Homo sapiens: one gene and its partner. The protein of the gene in region 1 purifies or fractionates together with the protein of each later gene. This does not show direct contact. Each region holds a gene or a part of one and is shown on either strand. Other genes may lie near its edges.

Region 1 (3,499 bases):
TAGTAAGAAGATTCGCTTAGTTATTTTATGTAAAAATCAGTATGTGTTTAGTTTTAGTGTACTGAAGGGTAAACATGGTTTTATTTTATTTTACCATATTATTTTGTGTTGTTTTATTTCTATTGTGCTGTAAGTTGATGTTTAAAATTGAGAAATACTTTTGTCATAGGTAATTTGGAACATTTACAAGCCATTTGTAAAATTTTAAGATAATCTGTAACTAATACATAAAAACAACTTAGCAAATGTGCCATTTTCACACAACTTCTCTCTGTATAGGCCTCTGAAATATCAATAAGGCTAAATATTACTTTACACAGTAAGATGTGAAATTCACAAAAAGTAAACCAAACAAAACGAATGAAAAACTGGAAATAATTCGTTTCCATATCTTTCCATACATCCATTTCTGAAGTATTCAGGAATGTTTTCATAATCGAAAGAAACGGGTATCCAAATAAAACCAAGTTCTTGACATTGGTCTGTTTTGCTGTGAATATTGGAAATGCTTAGGATCTTCAGACCCAATAGCTCTAATTTTAACATTTCTACCCAATAAGAGGCTCTGTTTTCCACTGAAGCTTTGTTGGAGAAAGAGAATATGAAAATTACACATTTTATAATTTTTAGATGAGAAAATACCACTAGCAGAATAGCTTTGTGCTATTCCAGTATAAGATGAACTGTAATAATTTTTGACTTCCCTATTTCAGAGATAGTCAATATAATATGTTTATCTATATCCATATGGATGGATAGGTAGGTAGATCTTCATAGATTTTTTTTTCTTTTGTTAGAGGAGAGCTTGATGTGATTATCTTCAAACCCACCAAACCAACAGGATAATTGACAAATAAACGCCATAGGCTAGGCTGAACTGTATGTTACTGTTTTCATGCTTATACATATATTTTCAATCACATACAAGTACATAGAATTTCACATTTTAATTTAGCAAATTGATTTACCTAGGAAAAAATTATCACCTTCAAAGATAGGCATAGACACATAATTATGCTTAAGCTTTTAACAGCATTTTAACCGCTCTAAAAATTACCAGAGTAAGAAAAAGCTAGGTACTTTAAAGTGAGTTTGAGAAACAAGTTGAAACTAAAATTAAAATACCAGCCATTTAGGTGCTTTCTCTGGCATCTATAAAAGTAAATTCTAGTGCCTGCCAAGTGATGGATTATAATGGTCTCTAGCAAATGTGTGGTAAACATTCATATGGCCATTAATTTTAACATTAAATCGTAGGTAGGGCAATGTAGTAAAATGAAAGAGAATTAAGAAAGGTTTTGAATTCTTATAACATATCCAGCCATTTCAATTTTGATTGAAATGAACTACAAAGAATAGTGTTTGTCCCTATGGTAGCCTCAGTCTCTTTATCACTAACTTGGATTGAAATGAGTGAGGCCAACTCACATTCCCATCAAACACTCTTCCAAGGAAAAGCAGAAGTAATAATTGGAGGTAAAGTTTCCTTAGAGAAAATAATTTTATTCTGCTTTGTCCAATTAAATTATTCCAATGGCGGATGGTAATATTCACCATCTCTAATTCATTGGTCACTGGTAGGTAAGCATGAGTTAAGGAAAGTCAAAAATGAAAATATATTTTGCTGTGTATAAATTGATATTTTGCTATGCAACTCCTGTAATTGAATTTGTATAATGCAGGCACTTTCTAATTTATTAGAGATTATGGATCAGTTCTGACATTAAAATCATAGTTAATTGATGGATGGTTTTTATAGTTTGTTGATAAAGTGGACACAGTATTGTCTGAGCAGTTATATTTTAATGCATTTCAGTGTTTATAGTAGAAGTTTAGTGGATAAAACTTTAAGTCCAATAACTTGGGGGTCAAATGCTAATGTTTTATTCAATGTAAAGGAAGACCAAACCATGTACCTTATGAAGACCTTTGTTTTAAGACTTCCACACACCAAGGCTACAATGACTGTTAACCTGGAGGAAGTCTCTGGTATGGAGTTCTGAGAGCTTAAGAGCTAAACATGAGTTTAGACACACAAGATTCTAAAATGCAAATGTTTATTTTGAAGCAGGCATTGACAACACAAAAACTGTGTAGTGGTCTTGATGCTGGATTGTTTCTAGAGTCACAATGAATTATTTTTATGAGATTACCTTATTTTTATATATGACAAACTACTTCTATAATGCTTATTATGGTAAAATAAAATTGGAAAAAATTAAAACTGACCTATAAGAGTGTTAAGGACCTAATAGAGTGACATATATAAATTAAGCATAAAATATGTAACCAGGAAAAGACTGTTAACATTACATTTATGCAAATTAAATGCCCTTAAATTTCACCATTTGTCTTTCATTTTAAAGGTTATTTGCTCCCGATTATATGATTCAAGTGTTATAAGTTTTAGCTTGAACTACTTTGCAGTAATTTATTTGACAGATCTCTATTCTATAAATGTGTAATGTGATGAAGAAAGAGATCTTTCTTTTTTAATGAAAACATTAATGTGTTAATACCCTGTATGGATAATGCTTGACATTTAGTGGTTTCCAAAATATATTAGTATATTGTTGAACATACATTATGCCTTAGAAATGCACATTCTGTATTTTGTGGGATGATAATCTAATTCAGTATAGAATATGCTGTTTGGCAATGAGTTTGTGGCCAGATTTCAAATAGGGAGTTAAGTGGTACTTTCACAATCCAAAGATTTTTAGTTAAAAATCATGTAGTCTAATATGCTGCAGTTATTTTTTTATATTTTTCAATGCATTTAATTATCTTTTTTATAATTCTTTGTACTAACTCAGCATGTAACAACCAATTTACATGGAAATAAATCGAAATATGATAACTATTATGCTTAAATGGATTTGCGTCTATTATTTCATAGTATTTACTCTCCTGCAAAGCAAATAATACATACTGTTTCTTGGAATGACCGCAGAGTATTATGTGTTGAATATTCCTGGAAGTATCCATTATTCTTGGTAATTTGTTCTTACAAAATCTCAACCTAGGACTGTAAGATACTGTGCCTTAATTTATGGACTGCTGATAAGAATACTTTTTGCTACAAAACTACATTTAGACATACTCTTTTACCAGATTTACATCCTTTGCATTTCAATTTTAATTAATATATACATTTTAATTTTTTATTTGCTTTGGCTCTTCATTATATACTGTTGTTTGTCTTTCCTGACTTCCTAGGCTGAATTCAATATTCTTCAGTCTATTAAAGGCTACTTTTCCAAAGACAAGAAGCGAAGGAAGTCTTCTAGGTGTTAGAGATATGGCAGATAATAAAACAGAAAAAGAATAAAAGCCCTCACAAACTTTGTTCTAACAAGGGAAGACAAAATAGAATACGTTTAAAATGCATTTATTGTAAGTTAGATGATAATATGTGCCAAAATGAAAATACATTAAGGAAAGATGACAGGAAGTATGGCAGAGGATAAAGTGTTGCCTTCCTACATAGGGTGGCAGT
Region 2 (3,830 bases), on another chromosome or scaffold:
TACCCAGACCCTGGGTGGCCAAAACTGTGGACTGGTCATTATTAAAGTTGCAGGCTGCCACCTTTACAACAACCCTTCTCATTCCCCCAACGGGCCAAGTTATAGTAAGCCCAGGAAGAAGGATCTGTTTACACACCTGGCTTTCTTACAATAATGACTCTCTACAAGCATTACAAGGCAGAGAATTAAGAAAACGCAAGCCTTTCTGCTGCTCTGTTTTGTTTATACTATTACCATGTGGAAGGTGTGGCTCATTTTCATTCGACTCGGAGTCTGAAGATCGCTCTGGACTGAGCCTGCTGAGAGGCCTTTCTGGACTCTGCCATGGTTGGTGCTTTCCCCTCCTCTGTTCACCTGGTCAGTACAGATACCACCAAATTACACACTGCACAAGGTGAGCTGACAGCCAAGGCCCAGACGTTCATACATGGGAATGCCAGAACGCCAATTAAATCAGCACACCTTTTACTATACAGTAGGAAATAACTAGTTAGTTAACTTCCTACCTGGTTTCTGGGCTGCACCTATGTCCTATTAATGTTTATGTTTCTGCTTAGCTCACAGCCTCGGCCACAGTACCAACTCAACAACGTGTTATCTAAACAGCATGTGGGTTGTAGACATGCTTATTTATTATCATCACTCCCGCTAAAACACATAGACCCAAAGGGTACCTATCTCAAGAAGGAGCCTCATTTTACATTTAGTTAAGGCTCAAGATCAAGGGAAAAAAATTCGCTGCTCTAAGAAGCTAAAGCACAGCTGCAACGAGAATGAACGTAAGTTCACTCACTGAGGGCCGCTGGACACTGAAAAAACAGTGATCGGCAAAACTGAGCATGTTAACATCGATCACGCAAATCACATATGAAAGTTAACTGTCACATGCCATGGAGCGAAGAACAGGGTGCTGGAAATGGACAACAAACAGGTGGATGCAACTCAGGCTGGGGGTGGCTACAGCAGGGGTCAGGTGAGAGAAGGCATCTGAGCAGGAGGAGCAAGCCAGGCAATGGGAGTGCTGATCAGCTCATCACAGCACTGGCCTAGGAGCACTTGTGCCATTGCTCCGGCACATTCCTCTCCTCCCTGCTGCCTTCTGCCTTCAGTCAGTGTAAGCCTCATCTCCTCGCCAGGTTCTGGACTTCTCTGGCCTTTGCTGGGTGCTCTGGTCTGTCACCCATCAGCACTACTTAGTAAGCATCACATTAGTTAGTACTAACAAGGAAATACCCCTACTGCTTGGTACTCTCTTCACATGTAAGTAAAACCAGACATGAATGTCTTTAGCCAAGTTCAAGGACAAGACTAACTCTTTTCCTAAGCTAAGACCACATCATCTGGCCCTGATACTTCGGAATTTGCAGGAGCTTCTAACCCCCAACAACACTTCTTTTAGGTTGCTGTAATCATTATTTATTTAAAAAAATCTATCTGTGCAAACCTCTTCATGATCGTCTGATCAAAAGAGGGTATTACGCCTGTGGGAAAAAACCTCCAAGCAATGAATGTGCAAACTTGAATGCAATCTATTTACCAACAGTGCTTGATTATCTAATATTCCAAAGCATAATCACTATCATTAGGCATAAGTCAGACATCCGTAAGTTTATAAGCCAGGGCAGGAGCCATATCTTCATTCCTCAACTAAATTTTCTAATCATGCTCAGAACACAAAACAGGGTGCCCACAGCAAGTGTTCAGTTTCTATTTTCATCCATGTTTTCTTTACTCAGGACGTACACCCTCCTCCTGGGAAACCTGGCTTTCATACTCACTGTGTATGGGGATCTGGTAAACTGTCATGGTTTCATCCTCGTATTCTGGGGCAGAGTGGGGCCGCACAGCTACAAGAAAACCACACAACAGCAAAGTGATTGCATTAGTGAAGATGTGTGGGAAGAGTAACTTCAGGATCACCAACCACGAGCAACTGAATTGCCTCAGAATTATGGTGGGAATCTGACACGAAAACCAGACTTTCTAAGGAGATTACCATTTTTAGGAAATAAATAAAAGTGTATTTTGGTCAGCCATTTATATTTACTACAGCCAGATGAAAAGACATTATAATCTTTGGTGACTATCCGTTAAAAATTGAAAAACAAGAAACTAGTACTCAACTTTCAGAGACCCAAGTTAACAAACAGAATAGTGAAGCCAGGGAACCTATCATCGCAAACCAGAAGAGCTGATGTATATTTTGAAACAAAGTATTAGTGTTTCTATAAAAGAGGAGTATTAACAAGCCACAGATACACACCAGTGCCAGGACAAGAGCCCTACTAGCATCCTCAGTGAGGCCTCTTCCCATCAAGAGGCTGTAAGCCCCCCTGCGCAGCTGGAGCTGCGTTTCAATGTACAAAGTTGGCCACAAAACCTCTAGGGAACCCTTGTCACCCCCGCCCCCAACTCAAAGCAACTCAACGACGAGAAGCACCTCTGGAACTGAGGCAGGAGCCCTGCCGTCTGGATGGAGAATGCCACACAGCATGTACACAGGCAGGCATCAGCTGTTCAATCACTCCTGCCGACCTGGCCCCTATTTTTACAGCATGAGGTGGGAACACAGAAAATGTCACTATTTAGAAATCCCATCTCCAGCCACATGGTAGCTCATTTTGGGAGGCTGAGGCGGGCAGATCACAAGGTCAAGAGATCGAGACTATCCTGGCCAACATGGTGAAACCCCGTCTCTACTAAAAATACAAAAAATTAGCTGAGCGTGATGGCATGCGCCTGTAGTCCTAGCTACTCAGGAGGCTGAGGTGGGAGAATGGCTTGAACCCAGGAGGTGGAGGTTGCAGTGAGCCGAGATCATGCCACTGCACTCCAGCCTGGTAAGAAAGCAAGACTCTATCCAAAAAAAAAAAAAAAAAAAAAAATCTCGTGGTGATGAAGCATTTGATTTTGAGGTTTGATGTTGATGTTTTTAATGGATTCTAATTTGAGAGGTCAGGGCATATATAAGTTAGAAATAGCAGAGGATGAGTCACAGACAAAGACGTACCCAGTTCTATTCCTTTCAATGGACCAGAAAATATTTTGATTGCTTCGAGGTATTTTTCCTAATGAAAAACAAAGAAATGAGCAGTTATGGTTGAACAAATGTAGAACACAGCAACTATTCAAGTATTTAAAAGGTTACCAATAGGTATCAACATAAAACAAAGCTTAGTAAATATTTTGAACATCATTTATTACAAATATTTACTGAGTATCCATTATATCAGATGCCAAGGATATAGCAGGAAAAAGAGATGGAGGCCTTGCTCTAATCAGGCCAGTGGAGGAGACAAAAGGAAACACGATAACAGAAACAGCTTAGTGGCATTATGCTAAGTGCTCTGCAAGGAAAATGAAAAATACAGAAGGCTGGGATCCAACTTGTCTAGAGAAGAAGAGGCAGTTCTGGAGTAAATGACCCTCTAGCTGAGCCCTGAAGGTTCAGTAACAATATAGGCAGCAATTAGAAGAGGCAGAGGGAACCCGCGGAAGGGCGAAAGTCCTGAAGTGGCCAGGGAGTTAGAGGGACATAAGAGTCAGCCCATGCAGCTGCAGTTCAGCGATGGGTACAGATGGAAGTGTGGGTAGCGGCCGGGGCCTACAGGACTTGTAGGCCATATCAAGGTGTTTTGATTGTATTGCAATGGGGAGCCCATGAAGGGCTTTAGGGTGGCAAGTGACACACTACTTTTCTGTCTTGAAGTGACCTCTCTGGCTGCTGTGTGGCAGATGGATTACAGGAAGGCGAGAATGAATATGGGAGGCTATTGTAGTTTACAGGCATAGAAAACAGAAATAAGGAAGGCCTCAATAAGAGACAAATG

Evidence for each region.
Region 2: the proteins of SLC26A7 (region 1) and ELAC2 purify together in Homo sapiens (affinity purification with mass spectrometry; one large-scale study listed by BioGRID and IntAct). This does not show direct contact.

What each region holds. Positions count from the first base shown.
Region 1 is NC_000008.11:91,395,282-91,398,780, forward strand, and holds the end of SLC26A7 (anion exchange transporter), read left to right. Parts: 3' UTR 1-2,874; downstream 2,875-3,499. UniProt on the Homo sapiens protein: Acts as an anion channel mediating the transport of chloride, sulfate and oxalate ions. Mediates the transport of bromide, iodide, nitrate, gluconate, thiocyanate and bicarbonate ions.
Region 2 is NC_000017.11:13,011,429-13,015,258, forward strand, and holds part of ELAC2 (zinc phosphodiesterase ELAC protein 2), read right to left. Parts: intron 3,069-3,830; coding exon 3,011-3,068; intron 1,848-3,010; coding exon 1,779-1,847; intron 355-1,778; coding exon 235-354; intron 1-234. UniProt on the Homo sapiens protein: Zinc phosphodiesterase, which displays mitochondrial tRNA 3'-processing endonuclease activity. Involved in tRNA maturation, by removing a 3'-trailer from precursor tRNA.